3 separate regions of the Homo sapiens genome follow, and all the other regions are linked to region 2. The links come from fine-mapping of genetic effects on gene expression. A gene starts in region 2. Each other region holds a variant in brackets. All regions are shown on one strand. Distances are from middle to middle.

Region 1 (4,239 bases), 180 kb after region 2:
CGTAGAAGAGCCAGGAAAAACTGTGAAAGGACTTCAAGGAGCATGAAAAGACAGAAAGACTTCAGCACTTGCTATAACTGAATTTATTTATTTATTTATTTATTTATTTATTTTGAGACAGAGTCTTGCCCTGTCGCCCAGGCTGGAGTGCAATGGCACCATCACAGCTCACTGCAACCTCTGCCTCCTGGCTTCAAGCGATTCTCCTGCCTCAGCCTCCCAAGTAGCTAGGATTACAGGCGTGCACCACCACGCCCGGCTAATTTTTTGTATCTTTAGTAGAGACGGGGGTGTCACCATGTTGGCCAGGCTGGTCTCGAACTCCTGACCTCAGGTGATCCACCCGCCTTGGCCTCCCATAGTGCTGGAACTACAGGCGTGAGCCATCGCACCCTGCCAGAACTGATTTTTTTAAAGAGAGAGTCTATCATTATCTATTGCTGTGTAACAAATTACCCCAAAATTTATTGGTTTAAAAAACCAAATATTTGGTTTTTGTGCTCCCAGCTGTTTGGAAAAGCCGCCGGTATTTCTCCACCTGGCTCTCCTCTACCTCCAGGCAGGCGCACCCGAGGTCCCCCTCCCACCCCACCTTCTGCCCTCCCGCACACTTGGACCAGTGCTGTTGACCCGGAAGCGGACATTTCTGCAGCTATTCTAAGCACACGTCGGCGGAGGGAGCGGGACGTGGCCAGCGGTCAGCGGCGAAGGAGGCAGGCCCTGCGCGGGGATCACGGAAGCCCTGTGATTCACCATGAAGTTCCAGTACAAGGAGGTCCATCCCTTTGAGTATCGGAAAAAGGAAGGAGAAAAGATCCGGAAGAAATATCCGGACAGGGTCCCCTTGATTGTAGAGAAGGCTCCAAAAGCAAGGGTGCCTGATCTGGACAGGAGGAAGTACCTAGTGCCCTCCGACCTTACCGATGGCCAGTTCTACCTTTTAATCCGGAAGAGAATCCACCTGAGACCTGAGGACGCCTTATTCTTCTTTGTCAACAACACTATCCCTCCCACTAGTGCTACCATGGGCCAACTATATGAGGACAGTCATGAGGAAGATGATTTTCTGTATGTGGCCTACAGTAATGAGAGTGTCTATGGGAAATGAGTGGTTGGAAGCCCAGCAGATGGAAGCACCTGGACTTAGGGGTAGGGGAGGGGTGTGTGTGTGACTTGGGGAAAGAGAGGGCGGCTCCCACCGTGAGGAGACAGAAGGTGAAGACATATAGAAACTTTACACCGCACACACCGTCAACGCATTTTCACATGCTCAACTGATATTTTTTGTTGCTTCCTTGGCCCAGGGAGAAAGCATGTCAGGACAGAGCTGTTGGATTGGCTTTGATAGAGGAATGGGGATGATGTAATTTTATGGCATTCCTGAGATTTAATTTTTGTGCAGTTTCATAGAAAGGTCGGTCAGGAGGTGGACAAGTTGGGGTCAGAGATGATGGCAGTCCAGCAGCAACTCCCTGTGCTCCCTTCTCTTTGGGCAGAGATTCTGTTTTTGACAGTTGCACAAGACAGGTAGGGAAAGGGGACTTGTGGTAGTGGGCCATACCTGGGGACGAAAAGAGACCCACTGTAATTGATGCATCGTGGCCCCCGATCTTCCGTATCCCACACTTCTTTTCTCCCATCCCAGTTGCAATCTCACTCACAAACATCACAGTACCACCCCAGGGGCGGCAGTAGACACCA[A/G]CCCAGAAATTTAGACAGGGATCTCTTATCTTTGGAAAATAGGGGTTAGGCATGAGGGTGGTTATGATTAAGAAGATAATTTTGTTGTTAAATAGCATTAAACTGGAATTGACAGAGTGAGTTGAGCATCTCTGTCTAACCTGCTCTTTCTCTCTGGTGCTCCTCATCTCACCCCTACCTTGGAATTTAATAAGCTTCAGGCATTTCCAATTGCAGACTAAAACCACTTCTACCATCTCCTCTAGTATTTTCCATGTATCAGGACAGAGATGTCTTATGTAGGGAAGGGGCAGGTATGAAGTGAGGTAGATTATCTATACCTCTCACTCATTCAGGATTCTCGCTCCCATGCTGCTGTCCCTTCATTCTCACACTCACAGGAATGCTATGTGATGGCCAGCTGCTTCCCTTCTTGGTTATCCACTGCAGCTGCTAGTTAGAAAGGTTTGCAGGGATGACTTTTAGTAAATCATGGGGATTTTATTGATTTATTATCACTTATAGGATTTTGTGGGGTGGGAGTGGGGAGCAGGAATTGCACTCAGACATGACATTTCAATTCATCTCTGCAAATGAAAAGGGTTCTTCCTCTTGGGGGAAATCTGTGTGTCAGTTCTGTCAGCTGCAAGTTCTTGTGTAATGAAGTCAATGCTGTCAGGCCAAGTGAAGGGAAAAGAGAGATCAGACTGTTACTGTGTCTATGTAGAAAGGAAAGACATAAGAGACTCCATTTTGAAAAAGACCTGTACTTTAAACAATTGCTTTGCTGAGATGTTGTTAATTTGTAGCTTTGCCCCAGCCACTTTGACCCAACCACTGTGACCCAACTTGGAGCTCACAAAAACATGTGTTGTATAAAATCAAGGTTTAAGTGATCCAGGGCTGTGCAGGACGTGCCTTGTTAACAAAATGTTTACAAGCAGTATACTTGGTGAAAGTCATCGCCATTCTCTAGTCTCAATAAGCCATGGGCACAATGTACTGTGGAAAGCTGCAGGGACCTCTGCCCTTGAAAGCGGGGTATTGTCCAAGTTTTCTCCCCGTGTGATAGTCTGAAATATGGCCTCGTGGGATGAGAAAGACCTGACTGTCCCCCAGCCCGACACCCGTAAAGGGTCTGTGCTGAGGTGGATTAGTAAAAGAGGAAAGCCTCTTGCAGTTGAGATAGAGGAAGGCCACTGTCTCCTGTCTGCCCCTGGGAACTGAATGTCTCGGTATAAAACCCGATTGTACATTTGTTCAATTCTGAGATAGGAGAAAAACCGCCCTATGGTGGGAGGCGAGATATGTTTGCAGTAATGCTGCCTTGTTATTCTTTACTCCGCTGAGATGTTTGGGTGGAGAGAAACATAAATCTGGCTTACGTGCACGTCCAGTCATAGTACATTCCCTTGAACTTAATTATGACATAGATTCCTTTGCTCACATGTTTTTTGCTGACCTTCTCCTTATTATCACCCTGCTCTCCTACTACATTCCTTTTTGCTGAAATAATGAAAATAATAATCAATAAAAACTGAGGGAACTCAGAGGCCGGTGCCAGTGCAGGTCCTTGGTGTGTTGAGTGCCGGTCCCCTGGGCCCACTGTTGTTTCTCTATACTTTGTCTCTGTGTCTTATTTGTTTTCTCAGTCTCTTGTCCCACCCGACTAGAAATACCCACAGGTGTGGAGGGGCAGGCCACCCCTTCACCAAGGAAATGAAATAATTGCTTACCTTAAAAAACAAAACAAAACATTTGCCAGGTGCAGTGGCTTATGCCTGTAATCCCAGCACTTTGGGAAGCTGAGGCAGGAGGATTGCTTGAGCCCAGGAGTTCAAGACCAGCCTGGGCAACATGGCAAGGCCTCGTCTCTACTAAAAATAAAAAAATCAGCTGGGTTTGGTGATGCGTACGTGTAGTCTCAGCTACCTGGGAAGCTGAGGTAAGAGGATCACTTGAGCCTGGGGAGATTGAGGCTGCAGTGAGCCAGGATGGCACCACTGCACTCTGGCCTGGAAGACAGAGTGAAACCCTGTCTCAAAAAAAATTATTTTATTTCTGTTGATTAGGAATCTGGAACAGCCTAGGTGAGTATCTCTAATTGAAGGTCTCTCACAAGGTTGCAGTCTAGACACTGGCTGGGACTACAGTTATCTGTAGGATTGACTGGGGCTGGATGATCAGCTTGCTCCCAAGCTCCCTCATGTGACTGTTTCCTCACGTGTAGCTTCTCCTCACAACGTGTCAGCTGGCTTCCCCAGGGTGAGTGATTGAGAGAAAGAAGCAGAAGCTGCAATCTAACCTTGGAAGTGATAGACCATCATTTCTGCCATACTCCTTTGGTCACACAGACCAACCCTGGTACAGTGTGGGAGGGGACTACACAAAGGTATGAATACTTGGAGGCAAGGATCACAGTGAGTGTATTAGTCTGGGTTCTCCAGAGAGAAAGAATCAATAGGATATATAGATATAGAGAACCAGGGAAGCCAGTAGTGTGAGTCAGTTTAAGTTCAAAGGCCCAAGAACTTGAGGGGCTGCTGGTGCAAGTCCTGA
Region 2 (4,239 bases):
TCTGAGCTTATCGAGTTCATCTCTGAATCTAACCAAGGTCACAGATGTAAATGCCAGTGGATGCCAGGCAGGTAAAAAATGAGTGAAGCTGATAGGGTATAAGAAAACATTTTCTTGAAATCTTCAGCTTCTTTCTCTCTATATATATATTTTTTCTCAATGTGAACAGAAATGTAAGTACAGGAAATATTTCACTTTTTCCTTAACTTCACTGAAAGAAAACACCATCATGAGTATAAATGGCAACTGTCACCTAATCTCCCCTTGGGGGACTGTGACAGAGAGTGGACGGTGGCAAACTAGAGTTCTTACTCCATTTGAAAGGGAGCTCAGCTCAGCTCCCTTTCATCATCACCCAGCTCCAGCAGGTCGGTAGCTGTCATGTAGGAATTCAGAATTAGTGTTACCAGGTCTCCCAATTTTTAACATATATAAATAATAATAAATAAATAATACGGAAATTTGGATTTTGTGTGGAAGTCTTCCAATTTAAAAATTCTGGCAACAGATTCAATAATTTTTCCCAAACACTGCGCTGGCCAAAAAATAATGTGTCTGCAACTCAGCTGGTTTGCAACTCTGCTCTCAGCTCTCCTTCAAACTGTCTCCCCCGCCTCAGTCCCCCAGAATCTGCAGATCCTCCCCCATCCTCCCGATGGTCCTCCAAGGTCAGCATTCAGGATCCTCAAGGCCAGCCCCACTCCTGCTGACCCCCCTTCTCTGCAACCCTGCGCGGACACTCCGGTTGGCTCTCCATCCTCCACTGCCTCACTCAGCGGTTACCTAACCTCTCCAGGTGTTTGTCCCGGCTCGCGCCTTACTCATTCCTCCAGGTCCCTCTCCAGTCACCAGCGACGCTTGTCAGTTCTCACTAAATATCCCGGGCCGAACAAAGTAAACTGGACCCGATAAAGCACCTCCAAGGAGTAAAAGGAGCAGAGCCTCACACTCGACACGGAATCCCGTCGTGGTTCCAACAACCCGAGCCACCCCAGGGCCGGGCCCTGGATGGACTTGTGCACAGAGCTCCCCCCACGAGCGCGTGGGACCCTGGGGTGCCCGCGGCCTTCCACGCCGGCAGAACAGCAGGGCTCGATGGTGGGGGATGTTCGGAGCGACCAGAAGCCGCGCCGCGCCACCCGGCCGGCCTCCGAGCTGTTTGCGATTTCCTCTCGGGGCTCCTCGTCCTCCTCCCCCTCAGGCCGCCCTCGCACGGCCGCCCGCCTCCACGGGCTTCACCCCTGCCCATCTTCCCGCACACGGGGCCGGGCGACCCTCCCACCTCAGCCCGGGATCGCGAACGGCTAGCGGGTGTCGCCAGGCGGGGAAACGCCGAGGCCGCGGCCGCTCCGGTCCCCCTCCCAGCCGCCGGTTCCCGGGCGCGGCCCCCGCCCGGCCCCGCCATCGCCTTGGCCCCGCAACCTCTCACCCGCCGCGCGGGTCCCGCCCGCGGCCGTGGCCGCCCCCGCCCGCGCCGGCCCGGGCCCTCACCCGCGACAGGGTGAGGTCGGTCATGAGCTGCTCGAAGGCCCGCGTCTCCTCGGCCTGTCTCTGCGTGTGCAGCGCGATCTTCTCACTGAACTTCCGCGGGTTGGCGCTGCCCGAGCCCGGCGAGGCGGCCATGGCGCGGACTCTGCGCGGGCAGAAGCGGGAGACGGCGGCCGTGGGGCCTGTACCTCGGCCCACCCGTCCGTCCACAGGCCGCCGGGGCCGCCGCCCGAAGCCAGTCGTCCGGCGCGACCCGGCAGAGGAGCCGCCGCGGCCCCGGAGCCAGCGAGCGGCCGGGAGCGCGCCGAGGTCCGCCCCCGTGCGCCCGGCCCCGCCCCACCCTCGGCGGGGCCCGCCCGGCCTCCAGTCTGCCCCGGCCCCACGCTCGCGGGCTGAGGGCTGCTCCCCGCTTCCCGGTCTGGCTCGGGACCCGCCGCCGGCGGCCACCTGGAGGGACCCCCGTCAGCCCGACAAAGTGGCCCCGGCGTACGGGGAACGCTGGGGTGCCACTCCACGGAGACTCTCCGACCCAGGGATGGCCTCTGCGTCTACGCGACGTGGAGAACACAGCCTGTGCCCGCATCCCCCCTCCCCCAGCCAAATTACGAAGATTTTCTTCTCCAGGTGGAACCTGGGCGACCGGACCTCGAGCAGGTCACCTCGGGCCCCCGCAGGGGGTGCGCCCATTTTGCCTGGGGCCTAACGTCTGCCCGCCAGCCCTGCCGCTCCAGGCCCCCGGCCTCCAGCCGCTGGTTTCCTGACCTCTCACACCCACCCCTCCCCGCTCCAGTCAACCAGAGCTGTATCTCGGCTTTAAAAACTGCCTCCTATTCTGCACAAACTACAAACACCATCCAGCCCTGCTGCAGCCTTGGCTCCATAGCCCCGGCCCCCTTTCCAGGTTCTTTCCAAGTCTCCCTACGGCCTCTCCACTCCTGTGGCAGCTTCAGCAGGTGCCAGCCCCACCTTGGGAAACCAGCGCTCAGCCTCAGCGAATTTCCCCTTCTTTTGGGGGAGTGAATGGATGTCTTTCTCTGTCGCCCGGTCTGGAGTGTAGTGGTGCGATCTCGACTCACCGCGGCCTTGACCTCCCGGGCTCAAAAGATCCTCCCACCTCAGCCTCCCGACCAGCTGGGACCACAGGCGGGGGTCACCACGCCCGGCTAGTTTGTAAATGTTTTTGTAGCAATGGGGGGCGGGGGTGGGTCTCGCTATTTTGCCCAGGCTGGTCTCGAACGCCTGGGCTCAAGCGATCTGCCCACCTCAGCCTCCCAAAGTGCTGGGATAACAGGCGTGGGCCACAGTGCCCGGGGAGTTTCCTCTTTGGAGTCCAGAAGCTACTCTCAGCATAAATGTTGATGTGCACAAAGATGTCCCGGGGAGCCCTGAGCGTGTGTCAGTGTTCTGTAAAGAGGGAAATATTAGAGGCCTACGGAAGAGTACGGAAAATAATATTAATACTACCCACGCCCCCCACTATCAAGATTAAACAGACATCAATACATTTTGCTGCATGTACTTGGGATTTATTAAAGACATACAAAATTAGTCATAACGACGGCCCCACTCTCATTTCTTCTTCCGCCCCACAGATAGTCACCGTGCTCAAGTTGGTACATATCATTCCAGTTTGTGTTTTTATACTTTTATTACATATGATGTAGAGATCCAGCAATGCTATATGGAATACCTAATTTTGTTTTTAAACTTTACAAAAATGACACCATACTGAATAATCATTTTGCATCTTTTTTCATTCTCCATTATGTTTTCGAGATATATTTGTGTCAATTCATTTATATGATAATATTCCATTATGTTTTTCACCTGTCTCTCAGACATAGCCTATAACTGGACTTTTTAGAAAATGTATTCTGAAAATATATCTCTGTTAGCTAGAATTTAGCTATTTTTATTAATTATAATTGGATTTTTTTTTCTGTTGTATTTTGTGTTATTTACCATGCTTTTTTTTTGTTGTTGGTTTGTTTTTGAGACGGAGTCTTGCTCTGTTACCCAGGCTGGAGTGCAGTGGCCTGATCTCAGCTCACTGCAAACTCTGCCTCTTGAGTTCAAGTGATTCTTGTGCCTCAGCCTCCCGAGTAACTGGGATTACAGGCTTGCGCCACCATGCCCGGCTAGTTTTTTTTTTTTTTTTTAAGACAGAGTCGCGCTCTGTCGCCCAGGCTGGAGTGCAGTGGTGCAATCTCGGCTCACTGCAATCTCTGCCTCCTGGGTTCAAGCTATTCTCCTGCCTCAGCCTCCTGAGTAGCTGGGATTACAGGTACACGCCACCACGCAGGCTAATTTTTTGTATTTTTTGTAGAGACGAGGTTTCACCATGTTGGTCAGGCTGGTCTCAAACTGCTGATCACAGGTGATCCACCTGTCTCGGCTTCCCAAAATGCTGGGATTGCAGGCGTGAGCCACCGCGCCTAGCATTTTTCTTTACATTTTATTTCTGCTTTTCTGTTACATTGTTTGGGTCAAGTTTCAGAGAACAGAACCATTCTAGATGGTTTAAGTACAAAAGAATATATTACAGGGTATAAAATGACTTCCAGACTTGTTTGGAGGGCTGAAGCAACCGACTCCAGGTTGAACTTTGAGGAATGACTTTGAGAGCTATGCTGCAATACTGAGCCACCAAAGGAGACACTGCCTCTTTTGAAATCAGGAAGCCATCTACTAAATTGGAAAGCTGTCTCTACACTTACCAGCTCTTGAACCATACAGGTATCATCATGATGA
Region 3 (4,239 bases), 52 kb before region 2:
CCTAGATGGGTTTTTTGTTTGTTTTTAACCTGGAGGCTATGCCTTTTTTGACCAGCTGATCTGGGGATCCAATCTTCTCCAAAGGACCAAATAAGTCTTGCTGTGAGGCATGAAAAGAAGAGATGAAGAGCAGAACAGACCAGAGAAGGCACCAGCACCCAACCTGCTGATTTAGGACCTGGCCTATCACCATGTCTGTGGCCCTTGTGTTGCCCCTTCCTAGTCTGTATTTTTAAATGAAAGATAAAAGGGAAGTAAAGTTAACAGATAAACTAAGTTAAAAGGTGACTCCAGAAAATGATAGAGATAAAACAGTTTTGGGGTTGTTTTGTTTTTAGCAGGTAAAGTCAAAATCAGACCAATCAAAATGATCACAGAGGGCCAGGCAAAATAATTTCTCAAAATAAGAAATAATGGCTGGGTGTGGTGGTGGCTCACACGTGTAATCCCAGCACTTTGGGAGGCCGAGGTGGGAGGATCGCTTGAGCTCAAGAATAGGAGGCCAGCCTGGGCAACATAATGAGACCCCATCTCTAAAAAAAAAGAAGAAGAAATAACGACAATGCATAAAACACGCCCAGAGTTCATGCTGGGGGATCCTGCTCAAGAAAAGGCAGAGAATAAGGTCTATGTCTCAGGCAGAGCTTCTCACCTGGAGAAGATGGATCATGTTCATTCCCTGACCCTGATGGAGCAGGCTGTAAGCAGTGAGACCTCCCCCAGCATCTTCCCTCCAGCATTTGCACAGCGTCAGCCACACAGTGGGCTCCAACACGTGTTTGCTGAATTACATAATGTTTCTAAATGATTTGGCTCCAAAGAGGAATGTGTACCCCCAGGGGATTTACAGGATGGCATAGGGTATGGGGAAAACATTAGAAGTTCTGTTTCCACTTAGCTTTCTATTTTTTTGTATACTTAATATTAACAATACAGTGTTATATGTACATAATTTAAAAAACAAAGAACATACCCAAATTGGGGATATAAAACTCTTTTTACTACTAGGCTGCATAATCAAAAAGTTTAAATGCAAAGTGTTGATCGTTATTAAAAACTGGTGAGGGCTATATGGGAGCTTCTTATTCTACTCCTACTTTTCTGTACAGCTACAAATTTCCACGATAAAATGAAGAATTTCAGCTTCAAGTTCTCAGGGATGGCATAGCAGGGTGAATGCAGACCCAAGCCTCTAAAGGCACTTTACTGTCTTTCCACAGAGCGCCACCCAAGCCTCCACAGAAGTAGAAGTTTTAAACTGCCTGTTCCCATCCCCACCTCCCCACCTGGTGTGATATCTTTGGGTGGTGAGGGAGGCCTTCCGTTGAGTGTAGTTCTCCTTTTAACTTTAATGCTAATAAGACAATGACTAGAGAAATATGTTCTGGGTAAATCAGGTTTGCCCATTTATCTCCTCCAGAGGAAGCTGATTTGCTTCTTATGGTGATAGAAAGGAACTGCAGAAGGGAAGAACTGGCTTTTGATCAACTAAGACTTGAGCAGTGGCAGGAGTCCGGCCTAGTGGCTGGTAAGGCAACTGGCCAAAGGCACCCTTGGAGGCCACAAGGGTCAGGTAGGCACTTCAGGCCAAGCAGGAAAGGAGACAAAGTGCCTGAGCCTCTGTTCATCCCACACCAACCTCTTCCTGCCGTAGGAAATATATGTAAAAGACAGGCACCTGTCAGCCTGCCGACTCCCTCCTTTCACCCCCACTGCATTCTGAATCACACCAGATCCACCGCTGTGATTCAACTTGGTAGGACACTTCACTGAGTTTAGAAGAGATTGTAATTTGGAATTAAAAGAGAAAAAACAAAGGGGAGGGGACAGATGAAACAAGAGTGGCAAAATGTTGAAAAATATTGAATCTGGTGATGAGTCTATGGGGGTTCTTTATTCTACTTTGGGGAAGATTTTACATTTCCAAATAACAAGTTTGATTTTTTAATTAAA[G/A]TTATGATACTGTCATAAATTAAAGGTGCCTTTTCAGTTTTAACTCAATAACTTCTACATATATGCCAAAAAAAGAGATGAAGGCTGTGTTTTCTACCATACAGCCAGCCAACAAAACAACTTTTTTTCACACTGTTGATAACTTTAAAGGACAAAATAAGCATACGATGTCACAAAGGAACTAGGAAAGTATAAGAGAAAACATGTCTGGAAAGAATAAAATGCTCTGGAATATTTAGTTAGATAAAGCACATGGTAATTCTAAATAAAGCATATTGAATTTTTAAAAAAACTTACATCCTGTTTTTTATTTAAAAGAGCATAGGGTACTTTTCCTCATCTGGCCACTAGCTCATGAAAAGACACACACAGTGTCCTTGTCCTGTTCTGTCTGGACTCATAAGCCACAGAGTTTGGAATGATCTTCCGGGCCAGCCAATGCAACCAGACAGCATCCTCACCAAAGGCCATCTAGCCGCCACCAGACCCCTCTGAAGATGGGAACGGAGTACTTTCCCAGGCAGGCCACTCCTTTCTCATCCAGCCATGCTTCTGATATGTTCTCCCTTAGGCTGAGCTGTAAAGTGTTCCTAAGCATTCACTATCTCTTGGGAGAATCTGCCCAGATGAGAGGTTGCTAAAAATTCATCATGGTTTAAACAGCAGAAAAATACAAAAATAAATTTTTTTTTTTAATTCATCATGGTAAGAACTTTAGTCTCCATAACGAACCAAGCTACCAAAAATGGAAGAACTGGTCCCTGAAACCAGATTCTCCATTTAATCTCAGTTAAAGCCATAACTGGATCTGGGCGCTTGTTTGGAGACTGAGTTGGTCTGGCATTCCTTTTGTCAAACAAACAGAAAAACCAGTGGGCCGGGTGCAGTGGCTCACGCCTATAATCACAGCACTTTGGGAGGCTGAGACGGGTGGATCACCTGGGGTCAGGAGTTTGAGACCAGCCTGGCCAGATGACGAACCCCATCTCTACTAAAAATATAAAAATTAGCTGGGTGTGGTCATGCACGTGCCTGTAATCCCAACTACTCTGGAATCTAAGGCAGGAGAATCGCTTGAACCCAGGAGGCAGAGGTGCAGTGAGCCAAGATCACGCCACTGCACTCCAGTCTGGGTGACAGAGCGAGCAAGACTCGTCTCAGGAAAAAAAAAAAAAAGAAGAAGAAGAAAAACCAGCGGGACTGACACTAAGGAAGCCTATTCTTCCTATCTGCAAGTCCCCACTTTTGCCTACAGACAGGGGAGGGAAAACTAACCACTCTGTGAGCCTTAGGAGTTACTGAGGAGTAAAGGTCATAATGCTATCCTCTCCTGGCTCCCGGCTTCAGTGCTGAACCTTTGAGAACCCAGACAAGGGAACAGTGATTAACCAGCTTCCTCAGTCTCCAGAAGAATAACATATATAGTTCATTTGAGGATTTATGGGAACTCAGATTAGGCATAGTCCTAACTAAACTGGAGAGTCTCCTTACCTGGTACCCTAAAAAATAAATAAGGAGAAATATTTATTAGTGAATGTGATTATTTTTGTGGGATTTCAAAGTTTTGAAATATTTCCTCTTTTTGTATTTCTTCTGATGTTCCTGAGTGGGGATGTGCAATCAGCATGTAATATAAAACTAGAGATTAAAAGTAAAATACGTGTCTGGGCAGGTGGCTCATGCCTGTAATCCCAGCACTTTGGGAGGCCGAGGCGGGTGGATCACCTGAGGTCAGGAGTTCAAGACCAGCCTGGCAAACATGGTAAAACCCTGTCTCTACTGAAAATACAAAAATTAGCTGGGCATGGTGGCGGGTGCCTGTGCTCCCAGCTACTGGGGAGGCTGATGTAGGAGAATTGCTTAAACCCAGGAGGCAGAGGTTGCAGTGAGCCAAGATTGTGCCATTGCACTCCAGCCTGGGTAACAGAACAAGGCTCTGTCTCAAAAAAAAAAAAAAAAAAAAAAAAAGTGAAATACGTTTACTCCATGTAATCATTCAGACACATGCTCTAAAATCACAATGAAATTTACAGAGAAATGCTAAAGAATTTTTTCCCAGGGGAAGGGGACAGCCAGTGTGAGGCTTTTGCCTATGACACAATAATTACTACCCCATTTCCTCTTTCCTTCCCTATAAACCAGCCTTAGAGCCCACTCGGTCAAGCTATAGTGGATAGGGCCAGGATGTTCCAGGCCATGGTCCTCTTCCTTGACCCAAGAACCAGGACTGTCCACTTCCCCAAGGCTGTCGGTCCCCAGTGGGGAAGAGTGGAGCACAGCTGTCCC

Alleles and levels. Positions count from the first base shown, and alleles are read on the strand shown. Sizes are in standard deviations (SD) of each study's normalised expression. Not every link is listed here.
As copies of G replace A in region 1, the expression in unexposed skin of the gene that starts at base 1,772 in region 2 goes down (small effect, 0.18 SD a copy in GTEx).

The links. PIP is the estimated chance that this variant, and not a neighbour inherited with it, causes the effect.
Region 1: its variant is the best candidate, but not a certain one, in a credible set for the expression of CRTC3 in unexposed skin (GTEx, PIP 0.85).
Region 3: its variant is the best candidate, but not a certain one, in a credible set for the expression of CRTC3 in tibial nerve (GTEx, PIP 0.88).

What each region holds. Positions count from the first base shown.
Region 1 is chr15:90,345,713-90,349,951 of GRCh38, reverse strand. It overlaps the pseudogene GABARAPL3. Among named protein-coding and RNA genes, the nearest start is that of ZNF774, 4.5 kb to the left of the region's middle. The variant A/G (reference allele first, on the strand shown) is at 1,702.
Region 2 is chr15:90,527,456-90,531,694 of GRCh38, reverse strand. CRTC3 (CREB regulated transcription coactivator 3) reads right to left here and starts at 1,772. Exons shown (of 15, transcript NM_022769.5): 1 at 1,492-1,772. The coding sequence starts at 1,623. RefSeq lists an enhancer at 669-828 and silencers at 1,219-1,398, 1,419-2,168, 2,269-2,318.
Region 3 is chr15:90,579,317-90,583,555 of GRCh38, reverse strand. All of the region lies in intron 2 of CRTC3 (CREB regulated transcription coactivator 3), which reads right to left. Among named protein-coding and RNA genes, the nearest start is that of CRTC3, 52 kb to the right of the region's middle. RefSeq lists an enhancer at 1-231. The variant G/A (reference allele first, on the strand shown) is at 1,954.